Regions from separate parts of the Homo sapiens genome. Here all the other regions are linked to region 3. The links come from fine-mapping of genetic effects on gene expression. A gene starts in region 3. Each other region holds a variant in brackets. All regions are shown on one strand. Distances are between the middles of the regions.

The links. PIP is the estimated chance that this variant, and not a neighbour inherited with it, causes the effect. A credible set is the group of variants that fine-mapping cannot tell apart.
Region 1: its variant is the best candidate, but not a certain one, in a credible set for the expression of WDR73 in whole blood (TOPMed, PIP 0.59).
Region 2: its variant is the best candidate, but not a certain one, in a credible set for the expression of WDR73 in tibial artery (GTEx, PIP 0.69).

The regions. Positions count from the first base shown.
Region 1 is chr15:84,725,075-84,729,240 of GRCh38, forward strand. No RefSeq gene overlaps it. Among named protein-coding and RNA genes, the nearest start is that of SEC11A, 11 kb to the left of the region's middle. The variant C/T (reference allele first, on the strand shown) is at 1,891.
Region 2 is chr15:84,602,638-84,606,803 of GRCh38, forward strand. It overlaps ZSCAN2 (zinc finger and SCAN domain containing 2), which reads left to right. Exons shown (of 3, transcript NM_181877.4): 2 at 1,183-1,696. The coding sequence starts at 1,291. LOC105370947 (a long non-coding RNA gene) reads right to left here. Exons shown (of 4, transcript NR_186225.1): 2 at 3,725-3,826; 3 at 1,223-1,348. Among named protein-coding and RNA genes, the nearest start is that of ZSCAN2, 3.7 kb to the left of the region's middle. RefSeq lists an enhancer at 787-1,415. The variant T/G (reference allele first, on the strand shown) is at 2,363.
Region 3 is chr15:84,651,730-84,655,895 of GRCh38, forward strand. It overlaps WDR73 (WD repeat domain 73), which reads right to left and starts at 2,554. Exons shown (of 8, transcript NM_032856.5): 1 at 2,505-2,554; 2 at 1,903-1,970; 3 at 985-1,073. The coding sequence starts at 2,545. It overlaps NMB (neuromedin B), which reads right to left. Exons shown (of 3, transcript NM_021077.4): 3 at 3,403-3,680. The coding sequence ends at 3,645. RefSeq lists enhancers at 1,907-2,874, 2,301-2,540.

The sequences.
Region 1 (4,166 bases), 73 kb after region 3:
CTGCCTAGTCCAGATTTGTCAACATCCTGCCTCCCAACTCCCACTGTTAACTAGGCTGCCCAGAGAATAATGCACAATACCAGCCTCACCCCTCACCCTGGAGGCCCTAACCACACATAACTTCTTTCAGTTCCCCAAAAGGCTCTGGGCATTCCTTAAAGCCACTCTTTCTGGCATTCTCTAGCCCTTATTTCTCCCCTTTGCTTAGCCATTCTTTACTTAATCTTTAGGTTCCATCTTAGACATCATTCCCTCCACCCCCAACAACCAAAGCCTTCTCTTATCTCCCAAAATGGCTTAAATTATTCTCCCAGGCAGCCACTGAGCCCTTCATTCTTCCCCTATCACAACACTTATCACATTTTATTGTCATTACTTGTCTGGCTCTTCTGGTAAATTGTAGGCTTCACAAGCCAGGCAACATGTCTGTAAAGCTATCCCAAGTTGCAGTCCCTGGCCCATAGTTGATGTCCAGTAACTGCTGCTAGGAGAAAAAATGGGTCAGGTGTAATGGCTCATGCCTGTAATCCCAGCACTTTGGGAGGCTGAGGCAGGAGGATTGCTGGAGCCCAGGAGTTCAAGACCAGCCTGGACAACATAGGGAGGCCCATCTCTACAAAAAATGAGAAAAAAAATAGCTACGTGTACTAAAGCCTGGGCAACAGAGTGAGACCCTGTCTCAAAAAATAAAAAATAAAAAGAGAGAGAAAAGAAATGAACAAATGAATAAAAGGAAATGAGTGTTCATCAGCAGCACCTGCAACACATTCTCCTGCGTTTTTTCTTTTTTTTTGAGATGGAGTCTCGCTCTGCGGCCCAGGCTGGAGTGCTGTGGTGTAATCTCGGCTCACTGCAACATCCGCCTCCCAAGTTCAAGCAATTCTCCTGCCCCAGCCTCCCGAGTAGCTGGGACTACAGGCGCGCGCCAGCACACCAAGTTAAGTTTTGTATTTTTAGTAGAGGCAAGGTTTTACCATGTTGGCCAGGATGGTCTCGATCTCTTGAACTTGTGATCCCAAAGTGCTGGGATTACAGGCATGAGCCACCACGTCTGGCTTCTCCTGCCTTTTTATCTTCCCAAAAGAATCTGTGCACCTAGTTTTGTTTTGTTTTGTTTTATCGAGATGGAGTCTCTCACTATTGCCCAGGCTGGAGTGCAGTAGTGCGATCTCAGCTCACTGCAACTTCTGCCTCCCGAGTTCAAGCGATTCTCCTGCCTCAGCCTCCCAAGTAGCTGGGAGTACAGGCGTGTGCCACTACGGCCAGCTAATTTTTGTATCTTTAGTAGAGAAGGGGTTTCACAGTGTTGGCCAGGATGGTCTCCATCTCTTGACCTCATGATCCGCCCACCTCGGCCTCCCAAAGTGCTGGGATTCCAGGCGTGAGCCACCAGCACCCGGCCACACCTGAGTTTTTAAAAACAAACAAACAGCAGGGCACGGTGGCTCACGCCTGGAATCCCAGCACTTTGGTAGGCCAACATGGGCAGATCACTTGAGCTCAAGAGTTTGAAACCAGCCTGGGCAACATAGTGAAATGCCGTATCTACAAAAAATACAAAAATTAGCCGGGTGTGGTGGCACACATATGTAGTCCCAGATATTTGGGAGGCTGAGGTGGGAGGATCGCTTGAGCCAGGAGGTCAAGGCTGCAGTGAGCCAAGATTGCACCACTGCACTCCGGCCTGGGTGACAGAGCCCGACCCCATCTTAAAAAAGTAAAAATAGGGCCAGGCATGGTGGCTCATGCCTGTAATCCCAGCACTTTGGGAGGCTGAGGCAGGCGGATCACCTGAGGTCAGGAGCTCAAGACCAGCCTGGCCAACATGGTGAAACCCCGTCTCTACAAAATACAAAAATTAGCCGGACATGGTGGCGTGCACCTGTAATC[C/T]CAGCTACTCAGGAGGCGGAGGCAGGAGAATTGCCTGAACCTGGGAGGCAGAGGTTGCAGTGAGATGAGACTGTGCCACTGCACTCCAGCCTGGGTGACAGAGCAGAACTCTGTCACAAAAAACAAACAAACAAACAAAAACACTTAAAAACAAACAATGGAGAGCTGTACTGGAAACACTTAAAATTTAAAACTAGAGACTCTCAGAATATGAATTTTCCTCACTTCCTTCAAAATCCAGCTTACCCAATTAAACATGTTTTCAAAGAAAAAAAGAAGGAAGGAAGAAAAGAGAAAAAAAGTACAAAGAAAATACTCTAATGCTGAAATGCTAAGAGTGGTTTCTATGTCTGAACTGTCCAACACAATAGCCACTCACCACATGGGGCTCGTGAGTACTTGAAATGAGGCTTAGTCCAAATTGAGATGTACTGCAATTGATAAATACATCCTAGATATGGAAGACTTGGTATGAAAAAAGAATATAAACTACCAATTACACTGATTTCAAGAAGGGATGATCATACTTTTTTTTTTTTTTTTGAAGCAAGATCTCTCTTGACTAGGCTGGAGTGCCGTGGCTGGATCATAGCTCACCGCAGCCTCAAACTCCAACTCTTGGGCTCTAGCGATCCTCCCACCTCAGCCTGCAGAGTAGCCAGGACTACAGGCGCATGCCATCATGCCTGGTGTATTAGTCAGGGTTCTCTAGATGGACAGTACTAATAGCATAGATGTATATATGAAAGGGAGTTTATTAAGGAGTACTGGGCCAGGCGCGGTGGCTCATGCCTATAATCCCAGCAGTTTGGGAGACTGAGGTAGGCTGATTACCTGAAGTCAGGGGTTTGAGACCAGTCTGGCCAACATGGTGAAAACTCGTCTCTACTAAAAATACAAGATTAGTCGGACATGGTGGTGCATGCCTGCAGTCCCAGCTACTTGGGAAGCTGAGGTAGGAGAATTGCCTGAACCCGGGAGGTGGAGATTGCAGTGAGCCGAGATTGTGCCATTGCACTCCAGCCTAGGTGACAAGAGCGAAACTCCAGCTCAAAAAAAAAAAAAAAGGAGTATTGGCTCACACGATCACAAGGTGAAGTCCCATAACAGGCCGCCTGCAAGCTGAGGAGCAAGAAAACCATCCTGAGTCCCAAAACCTCAAAAGTAGAAAAGCTGCAGCTTCAGTCTGTGGCAGAAGGCACAAGAGCCCCTGGCAAACCACTGACGTAAGTCCAGGAGTCCAAAAGCTGAGGTGTCCGAGGGCAGGAAGCATTCAGCACTGGAGAAAGATGAAGGTCAGGAGACTCAGCAAGTCTGTTCATTCCACTTTCTTCCGCTTTTTCTTTTTCTTTTTCTTTTCTCTTCTCCTCTCCTCTTTCTTTCTTTTTTTGACAGAATCTTGCTCTGTTGCTCAGGCTGGAGTGCAGTGGCATGATCTCGGCTCACTGCAACCTCTGCTTCCCGGGTTCAAGCGATTCTCCTGCCTCAGCCTCCAGAGTAGCTGGGACTGCAGACGCCCACCACCACGCCTGGCTGATTTTTGTATTTTTAGTAGACACGAGGGTTTCACCATATTGGCCAGGCTTGTCTCAAACTCCTGACTTTGTGATCTGCTCGTCTCGGCCTCTCTAAGTGCTAGGATTACAGGTGTCAGCCACTGCATCCGGCCCTCTTCTGCTTTTTCTAGCTGTGCTGGCAGCCAAGGTGATGGTGCCCACTCAGATTAAGGGTGGGTCTTCCTCTCCCAGTCCACTGACTCAAGTGTTAACCTCCTTTGGCAACGCCCTCACAGACACACCAAGGAATGATACTTTGCATCCTTCAATCCAATCAAGTTGACGCTCAATATTAGCCATCACACCTGGCTAATTTATAGACAAGGTCTTGGTATGTTGCCCAAGCAGGTCTTGAACTCATGGCCTCAAGCAGTCCTCCTGCCCTGGCCTCCTAAAGTGCAAGGACTATAGGCGCGAGCCACTGTGCCCAGCAGTACTTTTTTGTTTTTTAAATACAAAACAAAAAGAACACATGGCATTGGTCACATGACATGGGCTTATGCTAGTGGACTGCTCTAAAACCATCAATTTAGAAAAACAATGCTCATTAACTACTATTCTCAAGTACAACTCTGTTCCTCTTCTTTTACTATAGATTCAAGGAATACATGTATGGGTTTGTTACATGGATATATTGCATAATGGAGAGGTTTAGGATGCTAGTGTACCCATTGCCCAAATAGTAAACATGGTCCCAGTAGGTAGTTTTTCAACTCTCAT
Region 2 (4,166 bases), 49 kb before region 3:
GAGTGCAGTGGCACGATCTCGGCTCACTGCAACCTCCTCCTCCCAGGTTCGGGCAATTCTCCTGCCTCAGCCTCCTGAGTAGCTGGGATTACAGGCGCCCGTCACCATGCCTGGCTAATTTTTGTATTTTTGGTAGAGACGGGGTTTCACTATATTGGCCAGGCTGGTCTCGAACTCCTGACCTCAAGTGATCCGCCTGCCGAGGCCTCCCAAAGTGCTGGGATTACAGGCAACCACGCCAAGCCTATAGCACAGTTTCTAATACATGCTGCTATATGGGTGTGTCATAGTTTATTAGCCATTCCCTGCTGCTGGATTTTTAAGGACTCGATTTTTTGGTTATTTTTTTAAGATAAAGTACTGAGGGGCCGAGGCTGGATTGGAGAGTATATGCATGTTTTAAACTTCATACTTAAAGTATGGTAATAATGCAGTTGAGATATTGCCTTTCTTCCAAAGAAGCTCAGAGTGCTTTGACATCTGATCCATTGCTGATCCTTAAGATGCCCCCATAAAAACAGAAACATGAGTGTTATTATCTTTATTAGGTGGTCACCGAGTTTGGTGACTAAGTTGTATGTTAGGTCAAGGTCACACAGTGCAAGTCGAAACTGACTTAGGAGAGTCCTCAGTATTTCAGTCATGGGTTTTTCCCGGGGACTTTGCATTTCTGATACTCATTCTTTGGTGTTTTGGAAGGAACAATGCTGTATTTTTTGTGCTTGGGATACTTTTTTTTTTTTTTTTTTGAGACGGAGTCTCACTCTGTTGCCTGGGCTGGAGTGCAGTGGCGAGATCTGTGCTCACTGCAACCTCCGCCTCCTGGGTTCAAGAGATTCTCCTGCCTCAGCCTCCCAAGTAGCAGGAACTACAGGCCCCCGCCACCACGCCCGGCTAATTTTTGTATTTTTAATAGAAATGGGGTTTCACCATACCTCAGGTGATCCGCCCACCTCGGCCTCCCAAAGTGCTGGGATTACAGGCATGAGACACTGCACCCAGCCTTCTTTTACCACAGAGAGATGTTTTCAGGAATAAGCCATTTTTTCTTTAAGAAGAACAGGAAACGTCTGTTGGTTTGCATATGTAAGGGCCACTTGGTGGTCTGACCTGGGCTTTTGTGAGTTAGATTGCTTTAGGACAGTCTACCTATGGATTATGGTTCTCTTTTTTGTTTCTCAGCGGGACTACTTGTTGATATTTGAGGAGGGAAGTGTCTTACCTGAGAGCCTGGCTGGAGAAGACTGAGGTCCAAGGCTTGAAGCCTAAGTGATTGCCCCAGGACTGTGGATGATGGCTGCAGACATCCCGAGAGTGACCACTCCGCTGAGCTCCTTGGTCCAGGTGCCTCAAGAGGAAGATAGACAGGAGGAGGAGGTCACCACCATGATCCTGGAGGATGACTCCTGGGTGCAAGAAGCTGTGCTGCAGGAGGATGGCCCTGAGTCTGAGCCCTTTCCCCAGAGTGCTGGCAAGGGCGGCCCCCAGGAGGAGGTGACCAGGGGACCACAGGGTGCACTCGGCCGCCTCCGAGAGCTCTGCCGGCGCTGGCTGAGACCAGAGGTACACACCAAGGAGCAGATGTTAACCATGCTGCCAAAGGAAATTCAGGCTTGGCTGCAAGAGCATCGGCCTGAAAGCAGTGAGGAGGCAGCGGCCCTGGTGGAAGACTTGACCCAGACCCTTCAGGACAGTGGTGAGACGCAGAACCTCATAGGGAGAGGGCGGGAGCACCCTTCCAAGGTAGAGGAGTGTGGTGTTTCGGAGGAGGAGAAGGTGGTGTCCAAGGCAGAGTGGGGGGCTAGCGCCATCCCTCTGCTCTGTCTGCAGGCAGTCAGCGTGTTCATCAGCCTTTTAGTGTCCTCACTGTGTGCAAAGTCAGCTCCAGAAGTGCTAGGAGGGCCTTAGAGCTACATTTGAATTGTAAGCACAGTTTTTACTTCTGTGTTTATTTGGAGTGGTTGGGAAGGTGATGGAAGTTAAACGGGAGGAGATGGAGACCCCTGGCACCTTCACGTGGTTGTGCAAGAAACATCCAAATGGTTCTTGCAATTAGAGAAAACAATCTGATATTTTCAACATGACTTTTTTTTCTTTTTTCTTTTTTTTTTTTTTTTTGAAACGGAGTCTCGCTCTGTCACCCAGGCTGGGGTGCAGTGGCACAATCTTGGCTCACTGCAACCTCCGTCTTCTGGGTTCAAGCAGTTCTCCTGCCTCAGCCTTTTGAGTAGCTGGAATTACAGGCGTGCGCCACCACGCCCGGCTAATTTTTTTATTTTTCGTAGAGATGGGGCTTCACCATGTTCGCCAGACTGGTCTCAAGCTCCTAACCTCGTGATCCGCCCACCTCAGCCCCCGAAAG[T/G]GCTGGGATTACAGGCGTGAGTCACCACGCCTGGCCCCAAAGTGGTTATTTTTATGAAACCAAGAGAAATGACAAGTAAACCAGCTAATAACTAGGGACTTTCTGTGGTATAAAGTAATCCTGGGCTCTTAAAATCGTAATTTCAAACTTGAGCTCTTTGCAATAGTTACTCTATTTTTTTCCGGTGTTACTAATAAGTATTGGGATTCTGGCTTGCCGTTTAACCGCTGTCTCCCTCCTGGTTTTCCATTGTAAAGTAGACTCACTTGATGACCAAATGTTTACTTCAGATGTGCCTTGAGGGCTGTCTCAGGGCTCGAAGGATATGGCTGCCTTTGTGCTGATGAAAACTACGGAAGTTCAGAGAAGGGAGCGTGGAGAGGAAAGGTCAGGTCAGAGAAGGCTTCCTGGAGGAGGTGACACCTAAGCAGGAGGTTGTAGAAGGGAGTAGGGTGTGGCAGCTGAGAGGAGCTGTGCTGAGCAGAGGCTTGGAAGGGCAGAGCCACGGTGGTTTATACCTTTGGGTGACAGGAGAGCTGGCAGATTGGAGTGGCAAGTGTGTTTTTAGGAAGTGGTAGGAAGTAGAGTTTGGGGGAAGGGTGGGTGAGGGCTTGGACTGAATGTTTTGCCTCAGTGGGTTCTTGAACTAGACCCCCAAGGGGCATGGAAGGAAGCGGAGTTTGGCAACAGGATGTAGGTTTGATTAGGGTAGTGAGAGGCTAGGGGCAGGAGAGCAGCCAGGAAGCTCCCTTGTCTTCAGGTGTGCAGTGATGGGGGTCTGCCCCAGATGGGGCACGTGTGAGAAAGAACTGATAGTCACCATGGCTAGCACTTTCCAAGCTCTTTCTGCAAGCCAGGAAATATGCTTAGCATCTAATATGGAAAACTCATGTAATCTTCACCACCCTGGAAGATAAGCAGGATTATCATCACCAGAGATCCCTTAAGATCATGTGCCTTTGTACCAGGCAGAACCAAGATTTGAACTTATGTGTGTGAGGACATAGCCCATGTTTTTAAGCGTTGTCATATGTATGATTCTAAGAGACACTTCCTAGTGGGTGTTGGAAGTTGGGGATGCAGATGGAATTAAGACAGTGACTACAGAGCATCTGGCCTGGAGGATTCAGAGGACTGGGAAGAGAAGAGAAGGAAACTGAAGGGGATTTGGGGCAGAGACTATCACAAACTCCAGGGACTGGGTGAATGAGTAGAGCTGTCCTCTGGAGAAAGGGACTGACGCCGAAGGTCTGCAGTGACCCAGCCCTGCCCTGGGCACCTTCATGCTTGTCTCACTAAGAATCCTGTGAGTGGCTGGCATTGTCATTTCACAGATAGGAAATATAAGTGCAGGAAACTCACATGGCTGTTGAGTGGTGGAGCCAGGATTCAAACCCAGACCTGTCTCTTTCTGCATGGAGATCTCAGTTTTGCTTGAAGCAAAGTGCTTGATTTTCTTTGGCCCTGAAAAAATAACTGCATTTTATTCCTTCTATTAAAATAAGCAAACCTGTCTCCCTATTTTACAGCTGTAGCTGTCGTTGCTTCCCTTCCGGTGGAGGTGACCAGTTTGTAATGAACTTCTGGATCTCCAGTCAGATACTATGGAGGAGAGAGTGATGGAGGGCTGAGGAGAGGCCTCAGGTTGTTATTTGGTTGGGGAGGCACAGAGCAGAGGTTCAGGTCTCAGCAGGTGTCAGAGGTGATTACAGCCCTTCCCATCCACCTTGCAGCAGGGGCTTTGTGCCTTTCATCTTTAACTGGGCACCTGAGATGGGAACCAATGGGGACCATCCCAGACACA
Region 3 (4,166 bases):
CTTCCCTCCCTACATTTCGTGACTCTGCTTCCTCTTCATTTTTAGTCTTTGGGCCTGACCACCACCAGCAAAAATCCTGTAGCAGAGGTCACCAAGAGTTTCCCAATTGCCAGTCTTATGAATGAACTCAATTCCTCATCTGAATGATTTTTTTTTTTGAGATGCAGTCTTGCTGTTGCCCAGGCTGGAGTGCAGTGGCACGATCTCAGCTCACTACAACCTCCGCCTCCCGGGTTCAAGCAATTCTCCTGCCTCAGCCTCCTGAGTAGCTGGGATTACAGGTGTGCGCCACCATGCCTGGCTAATTTTTGTATTTTTAGTAGAGACGGGGTTTCACCATGTTGGTCAGGATGGTCCCGAACTCCTGACCTCATGATCCGCCCAACTCGGCCTCCCAAAGTGCTGGGATTACAGGCGTAAGCCACTGCACCTGGCCTTCAATTCTTCTCTCAATGATTTTATTGGAACTCTAGACAGCTACTAACTCTTTTTTTCTTGAGAAGTTCTCTTCTCTTGGCTTCAGAAACATTGACCTTTTCTGAGATTCCTCTTACCTCAGAGGCTGTTCTTTCTTAGTATTCTTTGGGGAGGGGGGGTGCATCTTCCTGTACTCATCCCTTAAATGTGTTCCCTGAGGTTCCGTCCTCACTATATTCTCCTCACTCCTTATATACCACACATTCACTAGGTGACTTTAATCACTCTACGCATTTCGACCGCCCTCTATATCCTTAATCGCTCCCTAAATCTATTTCTGATAAAGTATAACTGACCTCCTCCTCTGATAGCCCTCTGTAAACCACGAGACATTCTACAGCATTTATCTCTGTGCATATGTGCCTCCCTCTGTTAGACTAGAAGGGCAGGCCTAGCGCTTTCTCTCTTTCTAGTATCCAGGACAATACCTGGTAGATAACAGGAGCTCCACAAATGTTTAATAAATAAATAAAAGTTGACATACTCAGCATTTATATTTTAAGTTACCTTGTTTTCCTTTACAGAAAGTCTGAGAGGTAATTTCAGATGAAGAATTTCATTCTTTTTCAGGCTTTCATAGCCAGCAACAAAGACTCCTGGAAAAAGAAGCAGAGGTAGCTGTCACAAATTGTTAGAAAGATTGCAGACCATGCAATCCCCCGAAGTAAGGATACATTCCTTCACTGTGCAGCCTTGTATGGAGGAATTGAGTACCTGGTTGTGTCTTTTTCAGACAAGGTCTCGCTGTGTCAGCCAGGCTGGAGTGCAGTGGTCCGATCACAGCTCACTGCAGCCTCAACCTGCCAGGCTCAAGTGATCCTCCCACCACAGCCTTCAGAGTAGCTGGGATTATAGGCGTGAGCCACCATGCTCGGCTAATTTTTGTATTTTTTGTAGAGACAGGGTTTCCTTGCTTAGGTTAGTCTCAAATTCCTGGGATCAAGCAATCTGCCCGCTGCCTCAGCCTCCTGAAGTGCCCAGCCTGAAGACTTTTTTTGTTAGCCACGCTGGAATACAGTGTCGTGATCTCAGCTCACTGCAACCTCCACCTCCTGGGTTCAAGTGATTCTCCTGCCTCAGCCTCCCCAGTAGCTGCTGGTACACAGGTGTGCACCACCTCGTCCGGCTAATTTTTGTATTTTCAGTAGAGACGGGGTTTCACCATGTTGGCCAGACTGGTCTCGAACTCCTGACCTCAGGTGATCCGCCTGCCTCGGCCTCCCAAAGTGCTGGGATTACAGGCGTGAACCACTGCTCCCGGTCAGAGATCTTAATAAGAGGAATATTAGTGCTGATGGGGCATCAAATTGCTACAAGTGACTCTCAGGTGCCCAGAAGAGTGGGTTGGGTCCCTCTAGGCTTAGCTCCTGAAACCCAGCTCAGGAGTGAGATTCCCTCTCCTTCAGGGCTAGAAAGGTATACCACCTTTGTCATCAATCCATTCAAGGACTCGAGTGGCTCCTGACAGGTCGAATGCATAGAAATCCTGGTACCTGCACAAAAGGGACACAGAATCACACGATGCACAGCACTTCACAGCTCAAAGAACTCCAAGATGGCAGCCGCATGGTTCAGTGGCCCAAACTCTGGAGTCAGGCAGACGTGGGACTGAGTTTACTTCCCATTTTACTCCCTGTTTCTGGGACCAGGCCAGTCCCTTGATGTCCCTGAGCCTCGGTCCTCATGTGTGGACGTCCCAGGGTACCCAGATTTCCCAAGGTTGACGTGAGGAATCAATGAGATCATCTGTGTTCTGAGCTGAACTCAGAGGCTGGCGCAAACTAACTGGGCACTGCGTCTTCACAAGCGCGGCTCTTACTAGTAATCTCACAACGCGCGCACGCAGGAAGGAGCCATTTCCTAGAGATGGGGGCCTAGGCCCAGGCGGAGTCCTCCACGGTGGCGAGCCCCGAGGCCACAGCTGGCCCACTCTGCACCAGGATCCCCAACGTGCCTCCACCCACACCCATCCGCCCGCCAGGCAAGCTCCAGGCCCAGCTCCCATGTCCCAGCCCCGTACGATTTACAAGCGCAAGGATTCCACCAGCCAGTCGTCCCCAGGATCCATGGCAACGACCGCTTCCGGCGTCTCACTTCCGCCTGCGAGCCTTCGGGGGCCGCGCGGCTCTCGCGAGATGTGGGCAGGGCCTCCCGTTAGGGGCGGGGTTAACAGGCTGAGCTGCGGCCCGGCATGGGTGGGTTACGGGTTTTCTCCGCGAAAGCTCCGGGAAAAGTGACCTGAAATCGGGACTTTCCCGCTGTCAGCTCCAAGCAGGACCTGAGGACCAAATGATCGCCCGTTTTAGGGCCAGGTGTTTGCAGCCCAAGAGAGGGGCAATGAATGCTCCAAGGCCAGAAATAATACAGGACCGCCCGGTTAAATTCGAATTTCAGAAAAACGGTGAATAATTTCTTTCTTACGAGTATGTTCATGCAATATTTGGTACATTTTATTAGATAAAATTATTGTTTATCTGAAATTCGAATTTAACTGGGTGTCCAGTATTTTTATTTGCTAACGCTGGCAACCCTTCTGACGGCCAGAGAAGAGAGGAAGCGGCCGGCAGGGTCTGGATCCCAACTCGGCGCTCCCCTCCAAGTCCGGCGGGGGTATTGAGTAAAGCCCGGCAGTGTAGTGTCTGCAGCCCCCTTTTACTAGCGAGGAAACTAGTGACACTTGCCTGCGCCAGTAGGTGGCAGAGATGAGAGTAGAACCCCGCGCCTGGCACGAAGCCTGGCATGCAACAGGCGTTATTTGCTTGCTGAATGAATGGGTAGGAGGCCAGAGTCAGTGCCAGGCTGGTGCCATGGCATGGGGTATTCTGGACTTTTTGAGCCAGCCCCATCTCACTGAACACTCTGCCCTCCAGCCCCCTTTTCCTCCCATCCCCTAAAAGACGGGTGAAAGGAGAGGACCAGGCATTGTATGTAAAGAGCAAGGTTTTATTCACCAATTCAACAGGGAAGCAGGAAATACAGCAGGAACATAATCTGTGTCTGCATCAGCGATATTTCTGGTGACCCAGCCAGAAATCACAGTAATGGAGTAACAGAGATTTGAGCTCAGGATTTACATCCAGATGGGGCCATCAACAGGGTCCCATTCAGCACCTTCCCTGGGTGGGCACAATCTAAGCCACGCTGTTGTGTCTGCCCCATTATTGGTGTCATTTCTGCAGTATTTGTACCAGCAGCCTCCTGTACTGAAGAGAAACATACAGAAGAATTGAGCCAGGGAGGGGCTCCTGATAAAGATAGGGGCATCCTGCCATTCCTAAGTGCCAGATGTCTGCAGAGGTGGGCACCAGCAGGCTGTCAGCTGAGGCAGGCCCCAGAGCACCCTGAATTGCCTTGGAGGGGTCGGGGCAGTAGTTTTCTCAGAACACAGCCCCAACCACCCAGGGTGGTCATGACAGTCAAAGAAGATCGTGGAAGAAAATCCAAATACAGTGCTTGGTGCTGGGCTAGTGTCAGCGTCCTCACTCCCCCACCCCAGCTCTGCCCCAGACCTCACTCTGAAGCCCCAGACGTAGGCACTGCTGCTTCTGAGATTCTCTAGTTGGTCTGCATGTGTCAGAGCTTCAAAACCAAGGGCATTAGAGGTGACATTGTTTCCCTTCAGACTCAGCCAGCCCAAGCTCCTAGGCCTTACATCTGAGGTCCTCAGGGGCTGCTGGTTCTGTGCCTCA